4 linked regions of the Homo sapiens genome follow. The protein of the gene in region 2 interacts with the protein of the main gene of each other region in a pairwise test. Each region holds a gene or a part of one and is shown on either strand. Other genes may lie near its edges.

What was found.
Region 1: the proteins of ROR1 (region 2) and PPM1F interact in a two-hybrid assay, tested with the Homo sapiens proteins (one study listed by BioGRID and IntAct).
Region 3: the proteins of ROR1 (region 2) and DUSP14 interact in a two-hybrid assay, tested with the Homo sapiens proteins (one study listed by BioGRID and IntAct).
Region 4: the proteins of ROR1 (region 2) and STYX interact in a two-hybrid assay, tested with the Homo sapiens proteins (one study listed by BioGRID and IntAct).

What each region holds. Positions count from the first base shown.
Region 1 is NC_000022.11:21,921,843-21,928,868, reverse strand, and holds part of PPM1F (protein phosphatase 1F), read left to right. Parts: intron 1-3,206; coding exon 3,207-3,300; intron 3,301-5,397; coding exon 5,398-5,777; 3' UTR 5,778-7,026. UniProt on the Homo sapiens protein: Dephosphorylates and concomitantly deactivates CaM-kinase II activated upon autophosphorylation, and CaM-kinases IV and I activated upon phosphorylation by CaM-kinase kinase. Promotes apoptosis.
Region 2 is NC_000001.11:63,777,009-63,784,034, reverse strand, and holds part of ROR1 (inactive tyrosine-protein kinase transmembrane receptor ROR1 isoform 1 precursor), read right to left. Parts: intron 1-7,026. UniProt on the Homo sapiens protein: Has very low kinase activity in vitro and is unlikely to function as a tyrosine kinase in vivo. Receptor for ligand WNT5A which activate downstream NFkB signaling pathway and may result in the inhibition of WNT3A-mediated signaling.
Region 3 is NC_000017.11:37,492,871-37,499,896, forward strand, and holds part of DUSP14 (dual specificity protein phosphatase 14), read left to right. Parts: intron 1-7,026. UniProt on the Homo sapiens protein: Involved in the inactivation of MAP kinases. Dephosphorylates ERK, JNK and p38 MAP-kinases. Plays a negative role in TCR signaling by dephosphorylating MAP3K7 adapter TAB1 leading to its inactivation.
Region 4 is NC_000014.9:52,733,158-52,740,183, reverse strand, and holds part of STYX (serine/threonine/tyrosine-interacting protein), read right to left. Parts: intron 5,340-7,026; exon of another isoform or gene 5,306-5,339; intron 1-5,305. UniProt on the Homo sapiens protein: Catalytically inactive phosphatase. Acts as a nuclear anchor for MAPK1/MAPK3 (ERK1/ERK2). Modulates cell-fate decisions and cell migration by spatiotemporal regulation of MAPK1/MAPK3 (ERK1/ERK2).

The sequences.
Region 1 (7,026 bases), on a different chromosome or scaffold from region 2:
AGGACCTGGCAGGATGAGGCAGAGAGATGAATGGAATGGAGCCGCATCTCAGGCAGTTGCAATTCCTGCAGGCCAGGGGAGAGACCAGGAGGAAAGGGCAGGTTATGCCAGAATCAGGGCCAGGTGTGGAGGTGTGCCCCAAGTGATCCTCCCACCTCTCAAGCCTCAGGAGACAGGAGGATGGCTTGAGCCCTAGAGGTTGAGGCTGCAGTGAGCTATGTTCATGACACTGCACTCCAGCCTTGGCAACAGAGTGAGACCCTGTCTTCAAAAAACAAAAACAAGCCCCAGAATCAGTGGGTAGAAGACTCGGGGCAGGGGAGAAGACCACCCACCTGCTGCTCCTTCAGCTGGAAAAGCTGGACTGCCCCAGGCTGGGAGGAACTCTGTAAGGACTCACTAGAAGCTTCTGAAGTGATCAGGCCACTGGAGGACAAGTTGAGGGCTGGGTCACAAAAGTGAGTTCAGGAGGGCAGTGAGAGTCACTCAAGGTCACAGGTCACGCTGGCACGCCTGGCAGGCAGCCTGGGAGAGATAGGAGTCCCGGCTCTGCAGGTGGAGACATCGCAGAGGGCCTTGGGCATCCAGGAGGATGGCAGTGCCATAGGCGACGCTGCTGCGGCCTGGCCGTGTGGAGCACTGCACTCCTAGGAAGCAGGAAATGGCTGTTCACAGGAACCCACAGGCCACCGGCTCCAGCTTTGACCTGGGAAGCTGTTTCAGGCAGGTGGAGAGGATGAGGTTTGAGGAGCAGAGGGAAGAGCTGCTGAGGGGGTGGGCGCTGGGCAGTCGGGAGGCGAAGGCAGGAGATGGCTTGAGCCCTAGAGGTCGAGGCTGCAGTGAGCTATGTTCATGACACTGCACTCCAGCCTTGGCAACAAAGCAAGACCCTGTCTCCAAAAAAAAAAAAAAAAAAAAAAAAAAAACAAAACAAAAAACAGAATCAAGAATCAGTGACTAGGAGACTCAGGGGGAATGGGACAAGACCCCTTAGCCTGGGGATATGTTAGTCCCGGACCAGACTGAGCCTGGCCAGTGTGTGACGGAGGTGGGAGCCACTGGAGGGGAGGAGGACCCAGGTTCAGGGCCAGGGTTAGAGGGGCGAGCCCGGGGAGCCGGCGCAGCCTGTCCAGCACAGGGGGTGCAGAATGGCAGGAGAGGGGATCACAGGCTGCAGGGGAGCAGCACAGCCCCTGTGCCCTCCTGCCCTTTGGCTCCACCCTGTCCCACAGCCATCCCTGGTGGTGGGGAGGGGCTTCAGGTAGGAAGGTTCTAAGCTTAGCCTGCATGGCCCCCTGTGGGGGAGAGCCACCTCCAGAGGGCATGGGAAGCAGATTGCCGTTCATTCTCCATCACCTGCCCACATTCCTGCCTCTGGGACATTGAGGGGCTGGAGTGGGCTGGGGTGTGTGGGAGACAGAAGCAGAGAAAGGCTCCTCATTCTCCCTGGAGCCTCCCACGCTCACAGCCCCTCCCCAGGGAACGCCTCTGAGGCACAGGGGAGGAGGCGCTGCTTCCTCTGCAGCTCCTCGCCGTCTGCAGGCGCCTTCACGCGTGTGTGTGGGCACATGTATGTGTGAACATTCGTGCGTACTCTGTGTTCATCCACCTGCCTCTCCCCGTGCCCTTTCTCCTGCCCTCTTCTTGGCTGTCTCCTGCTCTTCCCTCCTTCCTGGTCCTCCTTGCCTTTCCCTTGCCCTGCTCAGACCCCGGAGGTGGCAGATCTTAGACCCAGAGAGAGCCTTGAGGTCCCTGTTCCTGCCCCCTTCATGGCTTGATTCTCCACCTCAGCTGGGACAGGAGCACCCAGCCTACCAGGCACTGGTCCAGTTCCCACACAGGCTCATGGCTGCAGTGCCCAGGAAGGCCGGGACTCCTGCAAACCCATGTCATTCCCACCACAATGCCCTCTGCAGGGGAGCCACATAAAGAGGCCTGGTCCTTGGTGCAGGCATCTGGAGAGGGCTGCCTCCCCCAGGCCTCCCGCAGTGCATGTCCGTCTGCTCTGGGGAGGGAATTGGCTGATATCCCAATCTGTCTAGGGGACACCATCACCTGGGGCATCAGAGTTCTCATGCCCAGCTGGTGCTGTGCCTGGGGACTAGAAGGGCTGGTGCTGCGTGGGGTCAAGAGGTTTACCTGATAAACCGGTAAGGGATGCCCTCTTCCCCCAGTAGACTTGGGAGGTGCCTCACTCCCAGGGTGCCTCCGTCACTCTGTCAGGGATGCTGTTGTGCAGGCTTCAGTCAGCAGGCTCTCATCGGGGCAGCCTCTCCTTTGGGCAGAGGCTGATAGGACCAAAGAGGTTTCTAGAGGACTTGTGGGTGGACCAAGCCTCTGTCCTGTCCCTGGAGGAACCCAGGCCTGGGGTGTTGTGGTCCCCAGCTGAGTGGAGACTGTGCCTGTGCTGAGCTTGGGTAGAGGAGGACAAGAACTAGGCCAGGCGCGGTGGCTCACACCTGTAATCCCAGCACTTTGGGAAGCCGAGGAGGGTGGATCATGAGGTCAGGAGATCGAGACCAGTCTGGCCAACTTTGAGAAACCCTGTCTCCATTAAAAACACAAAAAAATTAGCTGGGCATGGTGGCACGCCCCTGTAGTCACAGCTACTCAGGAGGCTGAGGCAGGAGAATCACTTGAACCCAGGAGGCAGAGGTTGTAGTGAGCCAAGATCGTGCCACTTCACTCCAGCCAGGTGACAGAGCGAGACTCTGTCTCAAAAAAAAAAAAAAAAAAGAACTGGGCGGGCACAGGCTGCCGTCAGGGCCTCGCTCAGGCTTCCCTGCTGTGTGACCACTCACGTCACATGCTCCATCTTGGCCCAGCAGCTTTCAGGGCAGAGACGGTGTCCCCGAGCTAGAGACAGGGAAGCAGAAGGATCTGCTGTCTGTGTCGGGCTCGCAAGCCTCGTGAGTGCCTCCCTGACCCAGAATGCTGCCCAGGGGCGCAGGCACCGCTAGGCGGCCTCAGGTGGTCCGTTCATTTCACCATTCCTGCAACTAAAGGACTTGTGGGTTGTGTATAATTTCTCACTGTTTTTGATGAGCCTCGTTTGGGTGCATCTCTGAGCCTCCTGGCTTTGTTCCAGTGCTGCGGCTTTGAATGCTGCTGTCTTAGAAGCAGCTGTGCCTCTGCTCAGGTAGCAGCAGGGGGCTTCACGCCCCATCCCCCCGGCCCTGCCCCCAACTCTGGCTGTGTTTCTGCAGGATGAGAAGGCGCGCATTGAAGCATTGGGTGGCTTTGTGTCTCACATGGACTGCTGGAGAGTCAACGGGACCCTGGCCGTCTCCAGAGCCATCGGTGAGAGCCAAAGAGGCCGACCCAAGTGGGAGAAGGTCTCTCGGAAGCCCAGGCCTCGAGTGTGGCCCGCGGCTCACCAGGGGTTCAGGGAGGCAGTGTGATGGGCCGAGGGGGATTTGTCATGCACTGGGGTGATACCCTCGTAGTGTGAAGGGAACAGGGCAGATTCAGAGACTGCAGCACCAGTGTCTGAGTGTAAGTTACACTGTATGTTATTATCTCACCTAAAACAGCTCCTACAAATCTCATAGAAACCTGTGGCTCACCACCCTATGGGCTGGAAGTAGAGCTTCCAATATTCCGGAAATGAGGTTTATCCTCCTCCCGCGTTCATGCTGACAATCCTTTTTTCTCTTTTGGGAAAAAAGTGGGTTCGCTGGGCGCGGTGGCTCACGCCTGTAATCCCAGCACTTTGGGAGGCCGAGGTGGGTGGATCACCTGAGGTCGGGAGTTCGAGACCAGCCTGATGAAACCCCATGTCTACTAAAAAAAAAATACAAAAAATTAGCCAGGCATGGTAGTGAGCCCCTGTAATTCCAGCTATTCAGAAGGCTGAGGCAGGAGAATCACTTGAACCCAGAAGGCGGAGGTTGCAGTGAGCTGAGATCGCGCCACTCCACTCCAGCCTGGATAACGAGGAAAACTCTGTCTCAAAAAATAATAATAAAAATAAATAAAAATTTTAAAAAGTAATGGGTCTGGCTGGGCATGCTGGCTCACGCCTGTAATCCCAGCACTTTGGGAGGCCAAGGTGGGCGGATCACCTGAGATCGGGAGTTCGAGACCAGCCTGGCCAACATGGTGAAACCCCTTCTCTACAAAAAATACAAAGTTAGCCAGGTGTGGTGGCACGCGCCTGTAATCTCAGTTACTTGGGAGGCTGAGGGAGGAGAAGTGCTTGAACCCAGAGGCGGAGGTTACAGTAAGCGGAGATCGTGCCACTGCACTCCAGCCTGGGCAACAGAGCCAGACTGTGTCTCAAAAAAAAAAAAAAAAGTAGCTGGGCGCGGTGGCTCACGCCTGTAATCCCAGCACTTTGGGAGGCCAAGGCGGGTGGATCACCTGAGGTCAGGAGTTCGAGACCAGCCTGACCAACATGGTGAAACCCCATCTCTACTAAAAATACAAAAAACATTAGCCGGGCGTGGTGGTGCCTGCCTGTAATCGCAGCTACTTGGGATGCTGAGGCAGCAGGATCACCTGAACCCTGGAGGTGGAGGTTGCGGTGAGCCAAGATTGCACCATTGCACTGCAGCCTGGGCGACAAGAGCGAAACTCCATCTCAAAAAAAAAAAAAAAAGTGGGTCCAGCCTGCATCTCATTGTCTCAGCATGCGGTCAGTGCCGGGTCTCAGGCTGTGGGCACTGTGACCACACCTCCTTCCTGGTACTTAGAAAATCTCTCCCTCCCCAGCTGATTGCCAGGGATTTGGCACCTACCCCTCTGAAACATTCTGTCCTTTTTGGCAGATGTGGCACCTTCTTGACAGCCCATCCTCAGGCTGTGTCTTTCCTTGTGTCTCTGGACACTCCAGGAAGTGAGGCCAGGATGGGACGGCTAGGGCAGAGAAAGAGGGAGCTCGGCCTGGTGTGGTGGCTCATGCCTGTAATCCCAGCACTTTGGGAGGCTGAGGTGGGCAGATCACAAGGTCAAGAGATCGAGACCATCTTGGCCAACATGGTGAAACCCCATCTCTACTAAAATACAAAAAAAAAAAAAAACAATTAGCTGGGCATGGTGGCGCGAGCCTGTAATCCCAGCTACTCGGGAGGCTGAGGCAGGGGAATCGCTTGAACCCAGGAGGCAGAGGTTGCAGTGAGCTGAGATCGCGCCACTGCAGCCTGGCGACAGAGCAAGACTCCATCTCAAAAAAGAAAAAAGAAAAAAAGGGGGAGCTCACAGGCCAAGGTCAGGGGTTTCCGTTCCCAGGCAAGTGGGAAGTACTGGGCAGTTTGCATAAGGGAGCAACAGACCCCAGACCCCATGAGAGCAGGTTGGTCTCTGTCCCTGCAGGATGTGAGGTCTAGGCCTGGGTAGGTGGGGAGGAAGCTGTGGACACCGTGGTCCTCTGACCCGGGCTCTTCTCCGCCTGTCCAGGGGATGTCTTCCAGAAGCCCTACGTGTCTGGGGAGGCCGATGCAGCTTCCCGGGCGCTGACGGGCTCCGAGGACTACCTGCTGCTTGCCTGTGATGGCTTCTTTGACGTCGTACCCCACCAGGAAGTTGTTGGCCTGGTCCAGAGCCACCTGACCAGGCAGCAGGGCAGCGGGCTCCGTGTCGCCGAGGAGCTGGTGGCTGCGGCCCGGGAGCGGGGCTCCCACGACAACATCACGGTCATGGTGGTCTTCCTCAGGGACCCCCAAGAGCTGCTGGAGGGCGGGAACCAGGGAGAAGGGGACCCCCAGGCAGAAGGGAGGAGGCAGGACTTGCCCTCCAGCCTTCCAGAACCTGAGACCCAGGCTCCACCAAGAAGCTAGGTGGTTTCCAGGCCCCTGCCCTCCCCTTCCTCCCATCCTTGTCCTTCTCTCCCTCAGAAGCCTCAGGACCCAACAGGTGGCAGGCAGTGGACAGGGTGCCCGCCCCACAGTGCTTTCCCCAGCACCCCAGAGCCAGTCGGGACACCCCCCGCAGCCCGTCCTGGTGGCTGTGGAACTGCACTGGGTGGCGGGCAGATGGTGGAAGGCAGCTTAGGAGACCTCACCAAAGAGAAGATGGACCGGCTCTTGCTCCCAGCTCCTATTAGGCCCGGGGTGGGACCAGAGGTCATAGGTGCCCAACGGCAGCCAAACCAAAGACACTGGTGTGCATGGGGCAGCATGGTTGTGCACGTGGGACCCTGGGGCGGACCCAGGAGCCAAACTCTTGAAGCACCCCCTGGGTCAGGCCCAGCAGCGGAGTGGCCAGCCCCAGTTTCCCATTGCTCCTCTCTGCGGCCAGGGCCAGGTGGGTTCATATTTACAGATATGCCCAGCCAGTCCTGGTCGGCCACACCAGTGTCCCAAAGAGGAGAGCGCAGCAGAGCCAGGGGTCTGTTCTGTAGCAGCCACCCCCCTGCCCCCACTCCAGGGCAGCCATGATGTGCTTGGGCCCACCAGGGCCTTCCGGGCTGCTCTCTTCCCTGAGCCCGGAACCGGCGACGCACATGTGTCTTTTGTTGGTGTGTTTGTTTTTTTCCAGGGAGGTCTAATTCCGAAGCAGTATTCCAGGTTTTCTCTTTGTTTTATCAGTGCCAAGATGACCTGTTGTGTCATATAATTTAAGCAGAGCTTAGCATTTATTTTATTCTTTAGAAAACTTAAGTATTTACTTTTTTAAAGCTATTTTTCAAGGAACCTTTTTTTGCAGTATTATTGAATTTATTTTCTAAATCAGGATTGAAACAGGAACTTTTCCAGGTGGTGTTAATAAGCCATTCAAGTGCCTTACACAGCTTTGAAGAAACTAGGACTGCAGTGGGCTCGGATAGGCCCATTGAGGTTTTTAGAAAAGCAGGATTTGTTTTGTTAGGGAGGCATGATTTTGGTGAGATCTTTCTGGAAGAGTTTTCCGCCTCTTTGTGATGCTGAACACCCCCAAGGTTCTCCCCTCCCCCCGCTGCCCAGGTGACTGGCAGGAGCTGCGACTGCCACGTAGTGGTGCCTGGGCCCGACAGCGGGGCTCTGGGCATCCCGGGTGACCTTGGCCCATCTGCCTGCATTCCCACCCCCTTGGGCCTGGCTGGATCCC
Region 2 (7,026 bases):
TGCAATGCAGTTTGGCATAATAATGATTAGGAACAAAACTCAGGCCTTAGGATATGCAGGTTCAAATCCTAGTTTTCCCATTTAACTCTCTGTGTGGTCTTGGGCAGGTTACTTACTTCTCTGTGCCTCAGTTTCCTTATCTGGAAAATGGGGATATCGTGGAACACACTGAGCACCCTGCCACATGCATTGTGAGTGTTCAAGGAGTGTTCAGCAGCCGGTGAAAGACCTGGTCAGGATTAATCTGCTTCTAAAGCCCATATACTCTTGCTCTGCTGTGCACCTTTTCAACAGACATGTGGTCGTTGGAAGAGTAAGTAGTTGTGTAGTTACCAAATAGAAGGGAAGACACCAAGACAGTTCGTCTTGTATTTTCTCCCATCTGCCCTTATCCTGGCTTTTAGCCTGGATTCTGCTTTGGGCATGGTGGAGGATTCACACAGGTGTGGAGCTGGAGAGAATCAAGATGCCTAATAGTGAACAATAATGCTCCTAGAACTCTGGCTTACCTCATAGGGTCGTCCTGAAGACTATGCAAGTTAAATCGCTTAAAGAACTTAGAATAGTACTTGGCCCACAGTATGCTCAGTGTGTTAATTATTAGTATACTATTATTCTTTTCATCAAGCAGACAAGAGGGGGAATAGAATTAAGTAGCCTGCACTATAAGAGAAAATGGCTGCATTAGAGACAATAAGACACCATCATATACCTTTGACAAGCAGCCCTGAAATGCACAACATTTTTAACTCCCTGGGACACCCTTTGGGAAGAAAGACAAGTCTTCAGGCTCCCAGTGAAACTGCTTCCTTCTCTCTCCTCCTCCACCCTTCATATGCTAAAAACACAACAGGCTTCATTCAACGCTGTCTTTCTTTTCTTCACTCTCCCATCCCCTGGAGATCAGCTTCATTCCACAGTGAAGGCCTGGTTTAAGAACTCAGGATAGTCTCAGCGAGTCCATGGAGACCCCCAGAGCAGCTGCAGGCTGCTGTGGAACTCCAGCCCTTTTCCAGCAGTGAAATGTCCAACTCCTCTTCCCATCTCCCATCCTTCAATCCCGCACCCTCTCAATCCTTCCTTCAAGGCTCACATCATATCACACTTCCTCCCGAAAGACCCACCCTTCTAGGGATTCTGCATATATAATTGCCAACTCTGTACTCACTGGCTGTATAAAGTGCCTATTTTACTGCCCCTAAAAGGTAAACTCCCCAAGGGTAAAGGCCACCCTTCATTCTTCTAGATTCTCTACAGTGCTAGAGGCACCCTATGTGTGCCATAAATTATTTGGGAAGGGGTTTAATTTACTGGATGGAGCCCCAGGTCTGCATGAAGTGGTCAGACACAAACCAGGTTTCCTATTTTATTCTATCTAAAAATGCTGGTCCTAACCCACTAAATTGATCTCACCACACACTGATTTACAACCTCATGTTAGTTAAGGTAACATTAGCAGCTGTAACAAAAAAAAAAACAAAAAAAAAAAACCTCAAAATCTCAGCCTTAACAATGGACACTTGTTTTTGGTTCACATAAAACCTAAACAAGTGTGGCTTCCACCACACAGTGATTAAGGGAGAGTCTCAGGCTCTTTCCACGTTGTGACACTTTCAACACATGACTTCTAAGGTTGTCAAGCCACCGAAGAAGGATCATACCGATTCTGCCTGGGGAGTTTTTTATGGGTCAAGCCTACAAGCGACAAAAATTACCTCCAATTTCATTTAATTGGCTAGTATTTAGTCACATGGCTTCACTTAACTGTGAGAAAGCTGAGAAATGTTGTCTAGTCATATGACCGGAAGAGATGGAAACATATTTGGTGATCAGCTAGCAATCTCTGCCATAAATCTGTCATTTGAAAAACCCTCCAAGGCAATGATCTAACCTTATTCATCTTTACATCTCCAGTGAGACTATCAGAATATTTGGTTCACTGTAAGTGCATAGAAAATGTATGATCAATGAATGAATGAGGGCAGGTGGTAAATCCTGGCCAGAGTTCTAGGAGCGCTATAGTTCATGATGAGACATCTTGATTCTTTCCAACCCCACATCTATCCAAATCCCCTCCCATACCCAAAGCAGTCCAGTCCTAAAAGCCAGGATTAGGGCAGGTGGTGAATATACCAGAGCAACTGTATTGGTGTCTTCCCTTTCATTTGGTGACTGCACAGTTACTTACTCTTCCAACAATCACATGTCTGTTTAAAAAGTGCACAGGGGAGCAAGAGTACATGGGTTTTAGAGGCAGATAAATCCTGATCAGGCCTCTCACTGGCTACATAACTATAGCAGAACACTCACTGAGCGCTCACTATGCACAGTCTGAGTGTGTTCCATGAATTATTTCATTGACTCTTCACAATAAGCCTATGAAGGAGGCACTCATGTTCTTCCTCTGACCCTCTAATCCCCTGAGAATTAATGTATTCTTCCCCATGTTCCCACAGCATTTTTTCCACAACTCTTTCCTATAATTCACTTGTGGGAGAGATAGTTGCCTGTGGTACCACATCTGCTCATTGGTGTCTCCCCAATCACACTTTAAGGATAACAAAAAGAGCATACATCTGAGAGTCAAAATACCTAGATTCAAATCCCAAATCCCAACTTAATCATTGTACGAATTTGGCTGAGATACTTACCTTCCTGAGCCTCGATTTTCTTATCTGTAAAATAGGATCAGAAGTCCAAACTCCAAGGAGTGCTGAGAAGCATAAATTTAATAGCTTTAAAAAAATGATACCTGGCATATAGCAGGTGCTCAAAAAAGTGAGAATTTTTCTCCTCTCTCCTTGAGGGCAAAGTTAATACTTTATTCCTGGACACGAATACTGTATCTTTCATGTGATAAATATATAATAAATGTTAGTTGAAATACACTGAGTGACAAGCTTCACTGTTGAAAAATAAAATATCAAACCCAACCTCTGCTTTGTCTTTAGAAGTCCTCTTTATCACCCCTCCTGCTTCCCACACGCTTCATTACTCTTCTCTCTTTGGGTAACATGAACTTTTTTTCTTCTACTCAGAAAATTTAAATGGCAAACAGAGCACCTCAGGATCCTTTCCTCCGGCCATTATCCTTCTCTTTCAAGTTGTGCTCAGCAAGATTATTTGGATATTGGAGCTAAAAACGGTCAGATTACAAGTGGAGGTCCCTGAAATGTAACATTCCCCATTGTAGGATTCTGGAATTACACTAAGCACCTGGGAGGGGTTGCTCTTCCCCAAAGAGCTTGCTGTTCTGAAAAAAGCCTTTGTTTTAAGGCATTGCAAAACTGCACTGTGGAATCCCTTCCATCCAGGTCCCCAGCACTGGCCTGGGTACTGCTCAGATCTAGAGCATCTGCATGCTCCCTATAAAACAAAACACTCTGGAGTCCTAAAACCTTGTAAAACTTGCTATTCTCTGAGCCTTGGTTGCTACCTTGCAGCAGGACCATCGTTTTGAAGCCAGATTTTCAAATTTCTTCAGTAAGCCCTTGATAATGATGGTGGCTAACATACTTCACGTTCACTAAGTCCATGGTGCTGTGTTAGGCGCTATAAGTTCATAACATCCTTTTATTCTCACAAAACCCCCCAGTAAGCCACATATTATTGTTATTCCCATTTTACAGATAAGAAAACAGAGGCTCAAAAGTTTAGGTAACTTTGCCCAAGAAGGCAACAAAGCCCCAATTCAAACCCCCATTCCCTATCAGGCTCAAATCCCATTCTATTTCCATTACTCCACGCCACCTCTTTAAGCAGCTATCAAAGGAAGTCCATCCTGTATAGAAATACTTGAAAAAAATAAAGTTTGGACTGTTGATCTTTTTTTTAGTCCCCCTCTCTCTCTTAAAAAAAAAAAAATCTATGGTTCTATGGAGAGAAGCAGGAAAAGGAAATGTAAGGAGGCCAAACATTATGAGGCTTGGCTTATCAGTATTTCATAACAGCTTTTGGATCAAGACTGTACAAAACCTTATTTATGGACAGACAGTTACTGTTAAGCAGAGCCTTTTTATACAACCTTTTCATCTGAGGATGTTGTAGCCTTCTGCTGCCTTTCTATTAGTGAGAGATGAGGTGTGAAATTTGCTGGCCCTGCCAAGATTATCCCATTAAATTATCTGCCCTCTTCCAATGTAATTCACTCAGGGGCAACTGTTTGAGACTCAGGTCCTATGGATGTCCATGCCTGGGTGTTCTGGGGGGTGTGGCTGGGGGCAGGGGATGAAGGAAAAAGTTCAGATGGTGGTAGCATCCCAATCACATAACATTAATCCACGTTTCACTGCCTTACCAAAATAAAGTGGATGCCACAATTATCCCATTCCTAAACAAACTGAAAACCCCAACTGAGCTTACTGCAACAAAGAGAGAGCCTTTTTACTGCTGTTTATTTTTATTTTGTATTCGTTAGCTTTTTAGATATTCCTGGCATGCAAGTCAGTCTCCGTGTAACAAGCAGCTGCATTTAGTTAAGGATTTTCGAAGAGTTGCCCCCATCCCCTCCCCCTTCAACTCCAGAGAACTTTCTCAGACTCTCCTTTCTCTTCCAGTTTCTACCGAACAGTCTCTCCCGTCACACCCCAGGGAATGGGTGAAGCCAGGCTAAGGCCCTTCTGTTTGAGAAAGAGGCCTTGAAGACGTGAGTGTTTCTCAGCTGGAGCTGGATTTGCCAGGGTCTGGTCCTCACTGGGACCTTGAGCTGGCAAGCCAGCTGTCCCACTAGACAGCACTCTAATAAATCCCCGCCTTCTCAGCCTACAACCACAGTTGTCCACCAAGATGCAAATACAAAGTCACTTCATCAAAATATAGCTTATTGATAGTTGGAAAAAACTGGCGAGCACACTTCTCAAACCACATCAAAGTTGAAGCTCATTACAAAAATGTAATTCTTCCAGAACCAGAGATCCAGGCCATCCAACAAGGTGCTTCCAGTCTATCTCTGAGTTTCAGCAAGACCGTCTTAGGGAACTCCAGCACTCGAAGGGAAATTGAAATTGGCTGTCTCCAATAATTTCTTATAACCTCTAGATTACAGCTAAGCAAGCTTCCCTTTGCTGCTGTTGGAAAACCTTGGGAAATACCACCTTTGTTCCATACATTAAAAGAATATAAATTGTAAGAATTAAACAAGGAAAGAATGTCTAGGACAGCCACTAAGGTAAGAGCATGAACTGTTAGGGCTTGTAAGCCCAGTAATGCCACTTTTTAGCAGTGTAACCTAAAGAAAGTAACTTAACCTCTCTGTGCCTAAGTTTACCCATCAGTAAAATGAGCTAATTATGCTATCTCCCTTATAGGGTTGTTGTGAGGATTCAGTGAGTTAATACTTGCAAAAGGCTTAGAAGAGTGATTGGCCCATTGTAAGGATTAGATAAGTGTTTGTTAAATAAACTGTACAAATTGCATCTCAGAATGCTTGGATTCAGAGACATATTTTCTTACTTGAGGTCACAAGGACTTGGCACCATTCTTCAGCTTCTCTCAGGCCCAATTAACAGCCTGCCTGGTGGAAGGGAAACTGGGAGGTGAGAAGTGGGGCCTCCATGGAGTGTGTTAACCTGGGATAAGGCCTAGAACTAGCCACCAACACTCAACTCCTTTCAGCCTCCCCAGGAAGACAACCCATTGCCTCAGGCATCAAACACTCCAAGTCAGCAGTTCCTATCGTTCAGAGGTTGACACTTTTCTTGGAAAATAAGATTATAGCTATAGCTATAAATACAGAACCGTAAAAATGCATATAAAATTGTGTATATTATTTCTGGAAGTTCACATATCCTTAATTTCATGTACCCCAAATTAATTTCACGCACTCACCTCTTGGCTGGGTGCTGTTCTCCAGTACTTTACATGCATGACCTCACTTCAATCTCATAACACTCTTGAAAGGCTCAGGAAAACTGACACACCCACTATACAACAGAGAAAAGATTCAAATCCAGGTCTGTTAAATGCCAAAGCCTGTGCTTGTAACCATTTAGCTTTACTGTCAAGTTCTGCTACACTACACTTCTTTCATACTAGAAGATGGGACAAGAAAAGGAAAAATCCTTGAAAATATGCCATGTTGCATTTTTACTAAGCAAAGCATATATCAGAATTTTGCATACAACCGAAAAAGTTATTCTCCATTCATTCAACAAATATCTATGGACCACTTACTATATATGTGTGTATATACATATGCTATCTGTACATATACATTTACATCAAAGTACATATAGCTTACAAAGTGTTCCATTCTCCATAGGATGCTGTGTAAAATTTTCAGAAATATTTGAAATGGGGTAGATGTTCACCATCAAACCACCAGCCAAACCTGATACTAATTTCAGAGCAAGTGACACTTTCAGAAACTTTCCAAAAGTCTAACTGGGGGCCTATGCTCAAGATACAGAAGAGAAAGGGTGCTATAGGGCAAAGCTGACCCCTCACTAAATATCAGGCAGATTATCCCAGGCATCAGAGAAGCAAAACAGCCTACCATGTATACTGAATCTATATTGGAAATTAAATATTTCCAAAACTGAAGGAGACAATTTGACCACACCCTTTGCCCATCCCACCTTGGTTCGGCTCCCCCTAGCCAGCCAGGGAGGATTTTCAGGCATCTCTAATAAAGTTGGGACTAGTGGACTTGGGCTCTCAGTGTTTTCACCAGAAAAGCTCACAGTCTTATTGCCTTCAAGACACTTCTATTCTAAAAGTACAGACAAATACCTATTTAAATGGCAACGGAAGGTTTACAAAATGATAGCAAACACAGTAGCAAGCCACCTCCCTCTGGCTCCCAGCAGCCAAACCACAGAATCTATAAGATTTTGAGAAAGGCCAGGTAGGTTCCTAAAGCCCTGGGCTTGGGTGCAGTTATAAGGTAAGCTTCAGGTTCCTAAAGAAGTTGAGCTTTGCATAGGGAGGGGGTAGATGAGAAATCAACAATGGACAGACCAGAAAAAATAAATTTAAAGGTTTTCTTCTCCTGGCTAACAAAATAGAAAAATGATGGGAGAAATGTTT
Region 3 (7,026 bases), on a different chromosome or scaffold from region 2:
TTCTATAGTTTTTATCCCCTAAATATAAATCCCTAATTGACATAGTTTTATTTTGCTTGTTTTTAACCTCAGTGCAAACTAAAAGTAGATACTCTTGTGAATCCTTCCTTCTGGCCGGCATCGTGTGTGTGTGTGTGTATGTGTATGTATGTGTGTGTGTATGTATGTATATACACACGCACATATATAATTTTTTAAATTTCTGCAGCATGCTATTTTAAAAGATTTATCCATATCGTTGCCTATGCCTGTAGTTTTTGTGTTTTAATTTTTTTAGAGACAAGGTCTCACTATATTGCCCAGGCTGGTCTTGAACTCCTGGGCTCAAGGGATCCTCCTGCCTGGGCCTCCCAAAGTGCTGGGATTACAGGTGTGAGCCACCACACCCAGCCCAGTTAGTACATTTTTGTCTTATGAACATACCACAAATTACCTTTCCACTGTTGATGGACATCTGGGTTGTTTCTGGTCTGGGGCAATTATGAACAGCCCTGAGTCAGGTGTGCATACCTTCAGCTTTACTAGTTGATACCTGGTTTCCAAAGTGGTTGTACCAATTTACATTCCTTCAGTGGTGTCAGCCTTGAGTTTGTAAGTCACTGTATTTGCTGTTTAACCACAATTATGCTTGAATATTTTCTGAATGAATGAATAAAGGTCCCTGGGTAGTCCGATCCCTGGCCTGTCATGTGCTAGCGTATTTTTATTTAGTTATATGGTTTGGACTAACCACCCAAATACCAGAAATGGTTTTCCCACTGTGTTTGGTTGACAAATATCTAATGGAATCCTTTCATCAATCTTTTTTTTTTTTTTTTGGAACAGATGAGTAGTTACAGGAAATTTTAAATATGCAAAATGAAGTACTAAAAATAAGTGGCTAGTACCTAGATGTTTTTTAAGGCTCTTGAATGAATCCTGCCTCTGGTGAATGCTTCCATTGTGCCCAGCCCTAAATGTGTAGGACAGTGTAGTGTGCAGGAACCCAGGCCTATCCTTGTTAAAGTACCCTCTGAGGATGAGACTCCTTAAGAGGCACTGTGCACAGACCCTAACTCATACTTCTTGGCAATTCCAAAGTAACCACAGACTCTGTGCTACAGGAATCAATGACTCTTTTAAACTTTTTTTTTTTTTTTTTGAGACAGAGTCTCACTCTGTCGCCCAGGCTGGAGTGCAGTGGCGCGATCTCGGCTCACTGCAAGCTCCGCCTCCCAGGTTCATGCCATTCTCCTGCCTCAGCCTCCCTAGTAGCTGGGACCACAGGTGCCCGTCACCATGCCCGGCTAATTTTTTGTATTTTTAGTAGAGACGGGGTTTCACCATGTTAGTCAGAATGGTCTTAATCTCCTGACCTCGTGATCCGCCCGCCTCGGCCTCCCAAAATGCTGGGATTACAGGCGTGAGCCACCGCACCCAGCCTTTAAATCTTTTAAATGTATTTTTCTCCAAATTTTCCTTTGCCTGAGAAAGTAGAAGTAGCTTAGAGCAGAGTTTTTGTCGTTTTTGTTCATTTTCTTTGTAAGAGATGGAGTCTAGCAGTGTGGCTCAGGCTGGCCTTGAACTGCTGGGCTCAAGGGATCCTCCCACCTCAGCCTCCTAAAAGCTGGGACTGCAGCATGTGCCACATCCAGCTTGAATTCCTGCTTTGTGAACAGACAGTTACCAGGCTCACTTTGATTGCCCGTGTTTAGTTTTGCCAGCTGGATTTGAAGTGTGTGTGTGAGAGAGAGTGAGAGAATGTGAGAAAGAGAAGGAGCAGGAGGGAGGGTGTGGGGAGAGGTGGGCAGTTCACCTGAGGGCAGCCGTTAAATTCAGGTGTTCATTGAGTACTTACCATGTGCCTAGTATTATGTGCTGTGTTTCTGCCCTTAGAGCAGAATGTTACGCAATTCTGTAGGTTTACAAAATACCTCAGGGGAATCCTTTTTAGCTGGAGGGATGATGGAAGAACACTAGCACAAAGACTGAGATTTGTAGATCCTTTTTATTTCTTCTCTAAAGCATCTTGGAAAATAGCTAAATCACTCTATTTTCAGTCTTTATTTACATAAGTCACAAAGACTTTTTTGCTCATTATAGTAAAGATTTTTTTTCAGATTCTCTAAAATAATGATAATTTTAGAAACCACATGCGGATAAATTAGAAGTTTTCAGGAAAAGACACCCAAAGGAGGAGGAGTAAGAAGTCGTTAGTATGAGAACCTGTTGATCTGAGTGATGGGGGAGGAGCCCTGTCGTGTTCTTTGTCACCCCTTCGGCCTTCCAGCGGGCAGCTTTCACAAAGGAGCTCCATTTTCCACCTGTTGCAGGGCAGGGGCAGCCTCAGCCTGGGCGAGGGAGGAGGCCTAGGGCTGAGATCACAGCCATGCCCTTTCATGTGCAGCCCACCCAGCTCACCTGGGCACGTCCCATTCTGTTCTTGCACCAACCTAGAGCAACCAGAGGTCCGGTTGGGTCAGCTTTTCACACCCCATGCCATGTTGAAACCTCAGTGGACGAGAAGGTTCTTTTGAAGTTCATATGCAACTGCTGGGTTTACTTCTGTCTTTGTCCCAGAACAGTTTCAGCATCAATGACCTAGGGCAAGTTTTTTTGTTTGTTTGTTTGTTTGTTTTGACTCCTATGTCTTTGAGTGTGTGGGTACATATGAGAAAACTCCCTAACTAGAGCATGCTGCTTCTGTTGACTAGTAAACATTATGTGGCAGAGAGCGCCTTCAAAGCACCAGCCTTCCCTGCCTGGGAAAGTGACCAGTAGGTGAACTTGCTTTAAGTTTTGTTTTTTTTGTTTTTTTGTTTTTTTTTTGAGACGGAGTCTTGCTCCATCACCAGGCTGGAGTGCAGTGGCGCGATCTCGGCTCACTGCAACCTCCGCTTCCCAGGTTCAAGCAATTCTCCTGCCTCAGCCTCCCGAGTAGCTGGGATTACAGGCGCATGCCACCACGCCCAGCTAATTTTTCTATTTTTAGTAGAGACAGGGTTTCACCATGTTGGTCAGGCTGGTCTCGATCTCATGACCTCGTGATCCACCTGCCTCGGACCCCCAAAGTGCTGGGATTACAGGCATGAGCCACCGCGCCCAGCCTGCTTTAAGTTTTAAGGAAGCACTTGTAAAAATAAAATCTGGAAGTACTGTCAACATACAAATTACATACAAATTTGGAGATTTATAATGAAGAATTTTGCCAATTTAGCTAAAATCTAAATCTTAGATTTAACTAAATCTTTTAAATCTTTGTGTTTCATTATAAAACACAAAACATTTATAATGAAGACACACTTCATGTCATCATTATAAATCTTTGGTGTTATCCTGGCTCCTATATAAAGAGCACTGGCAGGCTCAGGCCAGAAGTGGAGAGGGGGCTTGGACCGACAACTATGTGTTGTTAATTTTCTTCTATTAAAAATATTTTTTACTTTTAGAAATTGAAATCATATAGAAAATTATGCTGGGCACAGTGGCTCACGCCTATAATCCCAGCACTTTGGGAGGCTGAGGCAGGTGGATCACTTGAGGTCAAAAGTTCAATCGAGACTAGCCTGACCAACATGGTGAAACCCCATCTCTTATAAAAATGTAAAAATTAGCCGGGTGTTAGGCCGGGCACGGTAGCTCATGCCTGTAATCCCAGCACTTTGGGAGGCTGAGGCGGGTGGATCATGAGGTCCGGAGTTCGAAACCAGCCTGACCAACATAGTGAAACCCCGTCTCTACTGAAAATACAAAAATTAGCCGGGAGTGGTCGTGGGCCCCTGTAATCCCAGCTACTCCAGAGGCTGAGACAGAGAATTGCTTGAACCTGGGAGGCGGAGGTTCAAGTGAGCCAAGATCATACCACTGCAATCCAGCTTGAGTGAAAGAGCGAGATTCCATCTCAAACAAACAAAAAATTAGCCGGGTGTGGTGGCATGCACCTGTAATCTCAGCTACTTGGGAGACTGAGGCAGGAGAATTGCTTGAACCCAGGACGAGGCAGTTGCAGTGAGCAGAGATTGAGCCACTGCACTCCAGCCTGGGCAACAGAGTAAGACTCTGTCTCAAAAAAAAAAAAAAAAAAAGAAAAGAAAATTATTGAAAGCAAATTAACCAGCATCATAACTCACCATTCAAAAATCATTGCTCATACTTTATCTTTTATAATGCTTAGAAATTAAGTATTATCAAGTCAGAGCTTCCTTGGGCCATTTCTCTTCCCTTCCCACTGAGACAACCACTCCCATGAATTTGGTACATTTCCTTCCAACTCTATTTAAATATCAATTTTACTTCAAACTGCATTTTTTTTTTTTAAAGACAGAGTCTCTTCCCCAGGCTGGAGTTCAGTGGCACAATCTCAGCTCACTGCAACCTCCGCCCTCCAGGTTCAAGTGATTCTCTTACCTCAGCCTCCTGAGTAGCTGGGATTACGGGCACATGCCACCATGCCCAGCTAATTTTTGTATTTTTAATAGAGATGGGGTTTCACTGTGTTGGCCAGGCTGGTCAAACCCCTGACCTCAAGTGATCCACCTGCCTTGGCCTCCCAGAGTGCTGGGATTACAGGCATGCGCTACCGCGCCCTGCCTTCAAACTGCTTTTTTGATGAATGTCAAAAGGACATAGAGGCCTGGTGTGGTGGCTCATGCCTGTAATCCCAGCACTTTGGGAGGCCTAGGGAGGTGGATGGCTTGAGCCCAGGAGTTCGAGTCCAGCCTGGGCAACATGGCAAAACCCTGTCTCTACAAAAAACACAAATTAACCGGATGTGGTGGCTCATGGCTATCGTTACAGCTACTTGGGAAGCTGAGGTGGAAGGACTGCTTGAGCTCAGGAGGTCGAGGCTGCAGTAAGCCATGATTGTGCCACTGTGCTCCAGGATTCTTGCTCAAAAAAAAAAAAAAAGACAAGACAAGACTAAGCATGGTGGCCCATGCCTACAATCCCAGCACTTTGGGAAGCTGAGGCCAGCCAGAGTATCACTTGAGCCCGGGAATTCAAGGCCAGCCTGGGCAACGTGGCAAAACCCTGTCTCTACAAAAAATTAGCCAGGCATGGTGGCGCACCCCTGTAGCCCCAGCTACTCAGGAGGCAGAGGTGGGAGGATCGCTTGAGTCCCAGAGGTTGAGGCTGCAGTGAGCCTAGATTGCACCACTGCACTCCAGCCTGGGTGACAGAGCAAGACCCTGTCTCAAAAAAAAAAAAAAGGACAGAAATCTTTACTAGCCTTTATTTTGTACTGTCACATATGTTCTATGTTTAGGGGATGGAACTCTTAGAGCATTTCACATTTCACATGATATTTCTTTTTTTTCCTTTTTGTCACATGATGTTTCTTGTTAACAAAAATTGGAGAAGTATTTAGTGTTTTACAGAGCTTCAATTACTTGGTGTAAACTTTCAGCCAAAGGTGATCCAAAATGGAAATGGAGTAGAACTTGTTTTGTGTACTAGATTGTATCTTTTTTTTTTTTTTTTTTTTTTTTTTTTTTGAGACAGAGTCTCGCTCTGTCGCCCAGGCTGGAGTGCAGTGGCGCAGTCTCTGCTCACTGCAAGCTCCGCCTCCCCGGTTCACGCCATTCTCCTGCCTCAGCCTCCCCAGTAGCTGGGACTACAGGTGCCCGCCACCACACCTGGCTAATTTTTTGTATTTTTAGTAGAGACGGGGTTTCACCGTGTTAGCCAGGATGGTCTCGATCTCCTGACCTCGTGATCCACCTGCCTCGGCCTCCCAAAGTGCTGGGATTACAGGCGTGAGCCACCGCACCCGGCCTAGATTGTATCTTAAATCCAAATGACTACTGTATTATATGAAAGTAATCAGTTTTTTTTTTTTTTACAAAAATTACACTTACGGAGTTTCTTATTCCATTTATCCTCCTAGAAAGTACAGGAGATATTTTTTCCACAATATCAGATTACTCTTAATAATATTTTTAGATTCCTTCTAAAAAGGTACTTACTAGAAATGTGAATTCCCAGGCCTTCACTTCCAGAAATTCTGATTAATTAGGTCTGGGGTGGGGTCTAGGAGTCTGCATTCTAACAGGCAGCCCAGGTGATTCTCGTGTAGGACTCCTTGGGAGCACACTTTGAAGAATGCGTCTACTATGCTGTGATGGTTTTATAACTTACTAATTTCAACCAAGGATTGGTGTAGTAGCCCATTCTCACGCTGCTATGAAGAACTGCCTGAGACTGGGTAATTTATAAAGGAAAGAGGTTTAATTGACTCGCTGTTCCACATTGCTGGGGAGGCCTCAGGAAACTTACAGTCAGTGCAGGCAGGGGAAATGCCAGACGCTTATAAAACCATCAGGTCTCATGCAACTCACTCAAAATCACCAGAACAGCATGGGGGAAACCGCCCCCACCTGGTCCTGCCCTTGACACGTGGGGATTATGGGAATTACAATTCAAGGTGAGATTTGAGTGGGGACACAGAGCCTAACCATATCAGTTGGCAAACTTTCTTTTTTTTATTTTTTAAATTTTTTTATTTTAAGAGATGGGGTCTCACTGTTTGGCTCAGTCTGGAGTACAGTGGCATGATCCTGGCTCACTGCAGCCTCGAACTCCTGGGCTCAAGCAATCCTCCTGCCTTGGCCTCCCAAAGTACTGGGATTACAGGTGTGAGCCACCACACCCGACCCTCTAGAAGTGTTTTTGTTTGTTTGTTTGTTTTTTGTTTTTTGAGACAGAGTTTCGCTCTTTCACGCAGGCTGGAGTGAACTGGCGCGATCTCGGCTCACTGCAACCTCCATCCCCCCGGGTTCAAGCGATTCTCCTGCCTCAGCCTCCCGAGTAGCTGGGATTATAGGTGCCCACCACCACACCTGGCTAATTTTTATATTTTTAGTAGAGACGGGGTTTCACCATGTTGGCCGGGCTGGTCTCAAACTCCTGACCTCAGGTGATCCACTCACCTCGGCCTCCCAAAGTGCTAGGATTACAGGCGTGAGCCACCATGCCCAGCCTAGAAATGTTTTACTAATTAGTAATGTAGTCTTCTAAAGGGAACTATTACATTGTCATATTGTGTTT
Region 4 (7,026 bases), on a different chromosome or scaffold from region 2:
TGCCTCAGCCTCCTGAGTAGCTGGGATTACAAGCGCCCACCACCAAACCTGGCTAATTTTTGTATTTTTAGTAGAGATGGGGTTTCACCATCTTGGCCAGGTTGGTCTTGAACTCCTGACCTCATGATCCACCTGCCTCGGCCTCTCAAAGTGCTGGGATTACAGGCATGAGCCACCGCGCCCAGCCTAGATTCTTTAACTTACCAATGTGTTATGGTAATCTTTTTATATATGAGTTTTTTAGCCAGGTATGGTAGCTCACACCTGCAATCCCAGCCCTTTGGAAGGCTGGGGCAGGAGGATAGCTTGAGCCCGAGTTCAAGACCAGCCTGGGCAATATAGGGAGACCTCATCTCTACAAAAATTAAAAAATTAGCCAGGTGCGGTGGTGGTGCATGACTGAGGTCCTAGCTACTTGGGAGGCTGAGGCAGGAAGATCACTCGGGCTTGGGAGGTCGAGGCTGCAGTGAGTCATCATGGTGCCATTGCACTCCAGCCTGGGCAACAGAGACAGACCCTATCTCAACGAAAAAAAAAAAAAAAAAAAAAAAGAAAGAAAGGAAAAAGAAAACAGTTTTTAAAGACTTTAGGCCAAATACTCTTTTTAGTCATGGTACCCCTAATGATAAGCACAGTGCCTGACACAGAATAAGCACAAAATAGATGCATTTCAGAGATCTACTGCACTAAATGTTATTGACTTTTTTCTTTTTAAAAGATTCTCAAGTAGTCTAACAGCCAGCCTTATCTTCCTGAAGCAACTTGTCAGAGCTGTGATAAAGAAGAAAATCAATTAAAGAAATGAGTACTTTTGAATTTATCTAAAGTGAAATCACTAAATTTTGTGTAATTAAAGAAAAAAAAACAGGGCAACACATATCAAGGAATGGTGTAAATATATTCTGGGAAATACTTGTGTAAGGCAAGGAAGACTTTCCCTCTACCATCAGGATTCGATAACAGTCTATGAAATAAACTAAATGGAGAAAATGTATACAAATTTATTATGTGTATGGGAGTATCACAGGAAAGAAAAGTGTATACCAAAAAAAAAAAAGTGGTATTTTTAAAAAGTGTATACCAAAAACAAACAAAATCCGTGATATTTCAAACCAGTCTATGAAATAAACTAAACGGAGAAAAGGTATACAGATTCATTATGTGCATGGGGGTATCACAGGAAAGAAACGTGTATACAAAAAAAAAAAAAGTGATATTTAGGAGTTTATATACCCTTTATATAGCATGGGGGTAGAGGTATACAGGCAATTTAGAAGAACAATTCTGGAGAAAGATAAATGGGCCCTTAGAATAATAATAGATGATACTTTGTGTCAGTTTGTCTGGGTGTGGTGCTGACTTTTACTCTCCTCTCCAGTGATAAGAGACAATCTTCCCTGGTTGATCAAACTCCCTAGGAGCAAACTGAGCTTCTTTTGGAGGATCTGTCCTTAGGTAGGTAACAGGAGTTCAGAGAAAGTGTTTCTTTGCATTTGCTACTTTGCAAGTGTTTCCAACTTAAAGTAATCAATATATCAAGGTGTCATATTTTGGAGTGGCATTTCCTCAACACCTTCATTTGGCAATATGCCAAAAGACACTCAAAGCCACTGAAGTATCAATTTTATCAAAAAAATTCTTTAGGGAGAAACAGTATTTTCACTGGTTACTAATTTAAACAATTTTTATATTAAAACAAACAGGCACATATGGGATAGAATGCAAAATTTACCTGAACCTTTTAGCAAAACAAGAGGCTTCAAAGAACTTTTGAGCTTTCCATAAGGTTATATGTAATACAACATGAAAGACTCTCTTGAGATATATATATATATGGAAGATATTATAAGAGGGAAAAGCAAGTTGTATAGTAGGAGGGAATGAAAAATTATTCCTAGTCACAGGACAGATAAGAAGCCTTCTTCAGAGAACATTAGTAATTACTGCAATAGGTATGGATCCTTTGAAACCTAGAAAGCTTTCTCTCACAGAAAAGTTCATTTGGAACTATTCCTGGTGTTATCATCAGATGCTGATCTCAGAATCCACCTTCTTTGCTGCCCTAACCCAGATTACCACCTACAGAACAAACCTTAAACCTGCCTGTTGGCCGGGCACAGTGGCTCACGCCTGTAATCCCAGCACTTTGGGAGGCCAAGGAGGGTGGATCACAGGGTCAGGAGATCGAGACCATCCTGGCTAACATGGTTGACACCCCGTCTCTACCAAAAATACAAAAAATTAGCCGGGCATGGTGGCGGGCGCCTGTAGTCCCAGCTACTCGGGAGGCTGAGGCAGGAGAATGGCGTGAACCCGGGAGGCGGAGCTTGCAGTGAGTTGAGATCCTGCCACTGCACTCCAACCTGTTAAAACAAACAAACAAACAAAAAAACCCTGCCTGTCTATGGATCTTACTAACCAAGATTTTAAGTCTGAATGCTCATAGTCTTCTTCTACCACACATCCGTCTGAACACACGTCTAATAACCAAGTCTTGCCACTATCACACTTAATTCTTAATCTCAGCCTGCTCACACTACTCCTGAAATCTATCATTTTAGAAACCGTGGTATTAATGGAGGCATCTCCATATCACCAGCAATGATCTATTTTAAGTTACTATTGTAATTAATTAGTAGAAATCAATTTCCCAAACTTTATGAGTAGCCAAGCAGTTCAACCACATTAACCAAACCAAGGCAAGCCAGATAAACCAAAATAACCCTCTATTGTGAAACACCATGATTCTGAGACAAATTAATTCACAAGTGAAAATCTTTCGATCAACATGAGGTAGAAAGTACCACATGTTAAAACATCCTTCCGAATTATCTCCTTCCTTTCCATAAAAATGATCTATAAAACTGCATTTGGATAGAGAAAAGTTACAAAAATGTTCAAAGACCCTCAAATAAACACATCAATGAAGGATATAGACTGTAACCATTAGATAAAATAATTCTTATATGCATTGAAATATGAAATATGAACTTTTACAAATACAGTAGTCCCCCCTTATCCACAGGGGATATGTTCATACATTTGAGGATAGTGCTGAATCCTATATACACAATACTAAAATAAAACACAAATTGTACATAGGCTGGAGGTGGGGGGCAACAGTTTGGGGAAGAAAAAAAACATCAGAATACTAGACTTGCACTGGGACATTCCACAAAACAGAAAAGTTAGTATTGCACTTTCTCTCCTAGAAAAAATAGGTAAATCCCTCCAAAGTCCTTTTCCTTTCATTCCCACACCAAGCTTGAGCTTTGCTTAAATCAAAGGAGAAAAGAAAATGTTTCACTCAAATAAAAAGAGAAGGTGGGCAGGGACTGGAGGGGCAGAAGAGTACTCAAGTAAGATATTTTCTAAACCAGCAATTTTTAAACCTGACTGAACATTAGAATCATCTAGCTTCATTCAGATAAATTAAACTACAATAGGTGCTGGTAGGGTCCACGCATCAGTATTTTTAAAAAATTCCTTACTCTAGAGTAAGGGTTAAAAAGCACCATTCTAAATAAAGGAGCTAGAAAAGGAATCCTCAGCCATGTATGTTAAATAATTCCTATCTTTGATCCTGTACTACGGGATTCACAAGAAAAATGGAAAGGGAAACATGGAAAGTTGCTAAACTGCAATGGAAATAAATATTTCACTTTCTGTCAGAAGAGAAGATAAAACATTAACTTTTAAATTATAAAACCAATAGCCCCAGCTACAACCAATTTGCTTAAAAATTGGTACTATCAGCTACTCCTTCTTCCTAATATCTAAGCTCTCTTATGAAAGGTTCAGTCTAAATGGAAAATAGACAATGACCAAAAATTGTTAAATGTTACAAAGGTAAGTATTAAAGTACCAAGTGCCATAGTAGCTGGGGAATTGAACCAGTCTAGAGGATGAGGAAAGGAGTTAGAGAAACTGGCAAACAGGAAAAGCTTCTCTGAAGAAATGTTGCCTAAAGTGGGATCTAACCCAAGGGTAAGCAGTTAATTAGGTGAGGGTAAGGAAGGTGCTGGCAGCCAAGGCAGGGGAAAATAGCAAACATAAAGGCTCTGAAGGCGGGGGGTGGAAATTAAAGCATTCCAGGAACTGAGAGAAGATAAATATGGCTAGGGCTTACAGAGAAAGGAGCAAGAAGAGTAGCTCATAATGAGGTTAGAGAGGTATGCAGATGTCAGACCATACAGGACCCTGGAAATAATGTCAAGGGTTTAAATTTCATCTTCAAAACAATGGAAATTCATGAAAAAGTTTTAAACAAAAAAAGTAACAATCTTTTCACAAACTGACTGATCTAAATTTTTGTTAGCACTGTCCTATACAAAGAATACCAATATTTCAAGAAACGTGAAAGTAATATTCTTGTAGAGGTGACAGAATCATCAACCTATCATAGCTTGATCACATTAACATTAAAAGCATTCCCTGAACTCTCTGCTTGAATTCAGTTTTTATTAAATTTGGTCTGTAATTTGGATTTCCAGGTAGTGCTCCCTGTGTCAAAGAAACAATGCTGGCTGATCACTCTAACTACTTAAGACCATTTGACACTTTACATTATCTCACTGGAGATTAGAAAATTAACAGTGCTTATTAGTCAGTTTATTATGAATAACTATATGCTCCTATTTAATAGTTTATTTATGTGGCCCCTATGTATAGTTTTATCAGCCCAGAAAGTACCCTCTACCTGTGGAAATGTTCCTATGGTTTTGGTGGGAGGGCTACCAACAATAAACTTCACTCCTCTAGCCAAGGAATTAGGGATATGACCTAGATGGGGCCCCTCATTGTATCTGCCCTTTCCTGGCTACAGTGACTGATCCAAAGTGTGGGAACATGAATTAAATTGGGCAATTCCTCTAGATTTCAAACACAGAAGCTGGAAGTGTTCAGTTTTATTCCTCAATAACCAAGCTCATAAAGGTGTGACCCCAGATGGCCAAGCTTCACATCTTGGAGAAGCCAGAGAGAAAGCAGAGACTCCGAGAGAAAGTAGAGATAAGAACTCATGAGAGACAAAGGCAGTTCTGATGCTTTATAATACCTGGGTTTGGTCAAATCCTTGAAACTAGCTGCACCACTACCCTTCTGGATTTAATTACTTTTTTTTTTTTTGAGATGGAGTCTCGCTCTGTCTCCCAGGCTGGAGTGCAGTGGCTAGATCTCGGCTCACTGCAAGCTCCGCCTCCCGGGTTCATGCCATTCTCCTGCCTCAGCCTCCCAAGTAGCTGGGACTACAGGCGCCCGCCACCATACCTGGCTAATTTTTTTTTAAGTAGAGACGGGGTTTTACCGTGTTAGCCAGGATGGTCTTGATCTCCTGACCTCGTGATCCGTCCGCCTCGGCCTCCCAAAGTGCTGGGATTACAGGCGTGAGCCACCACGCCCGGCCGGATTTAATTACTTCTTCTTTTTCTTAAATTCGTTTTTGTTGCTTGCAACCAAAAGATACCAAACATGCAATATTAAGAAATACGGAACGAATTGGCTTTCAGCAGACAATACTTGCATCATTATCCACTAGCTTTAACCATTACCTCTGTCCCTGTGATATAATATGAAATACATGGTCTTTCTCTCCAGTTCCTGTCACAGTCCTCCTAAAACTCTTGGAATTTTCTAATAGGAGTGTCTTTGGTTATTTATGAGCCACTATTTTTGATCAAACCTGATTATGCTAATGAAGTGATTTAGGGTGGGGCCAGTCACCAGAAAGACCATGTGACAAGAGGGTTGAACTCTCAGCCTCACACACACACACACCTCTATGGGAGGGGATGGAGATGAAGTTCTATAAAAACCGTTGAATAAGATTTGTTGAGCTTCTGGATGAAAACACTGGAGGTGCTAGTGAGGCAGGTGAATAGGGTCTGGAGGCAGGGAATCTAAGGCTGTTTCACCCCGACTTCCCAGAACTAACTTGAAGGGAAAACCCTAACTTTCCACGCCTAAGTAACAAAAGGACCAGAGGCTACTCCCGTTGCAAACCACCTACCTTTTCTGCACAGTAGACGGGAAATTGGCTGTCCTCAACAAATCAGACTGACTGCGGGTGGAATCTTCGTTTGCAACTTTGTAACTTCACTCTAGCCACTGAATGGTCGCTGTCCACAACCAAGCGGACTGATGTGGGGGTGGGTCTGGCAACCAATCAGACCAATTGCAAGCCACCTCTTCATTTACATGAGGTGAGCATGGAATGGCCAATGGGAAAGTTCTAGGGGGTATTTGGACCCAAGAAGATTCGGTAAAGCAGCGGGGGTCGGGGGGGAGTGCTGCTAGGGCAGCTCCCACACTGTGGAGTGTACTTTTGTTTTCAATAAATCCCTGCTTTTGTTCTTTTGTTGCTTCATTCTTTCTTTGCTTGGAGTTTTGTCCAATTCTTTGTTCAAAACGCCAAGAACCTGGACAGCTTGCAATCATGACTCTACTGGTGACACTGGGATGGTGGTGTGCCCCTTCCCCCATACCTTGCCCTATTCATCTCTTCCTACTGGCTGTTCACTGATCTTTTGTAGTATCCTTTATAATAAACCCGTAAATGTACTTCCCTGAGTCCTGTAAGTCACTCTAGCAAGTTAACTGAACCAAGGAGGGAGTAACGGGAACCCTGATTTACAGTCAGTCAGGAGTGTATAGGTGACAACCTACTACTTGTGATTACCATCTGAGGTTGGGGGCAGCCTTGCGGGACTGAGCCATTAACCTGTGGGATCTGACTAACTTCAGGTACATATGTGTCAGAATTGAATTATGGGACATTCAGTTCATGCCTGCTGGAAAACTGCTTGGTATGGAAAAACCCCCACACATCTGGTAGCATAAAAAAAAGAGTGTGTTTTCAAGTCCCACACAGAAAAGACAGGTATATATTCCCAGCAAGAATTTATCAGTTTTGCAGGAATAAGGCATACATAATGATATACACAGTAACAGATTAAATGCAAAGTCCGGGAAAATTTTAAACTAGAATTTTTAAGATTAGGGCAGGGAAGAATTGAAGTGTATTAAAAA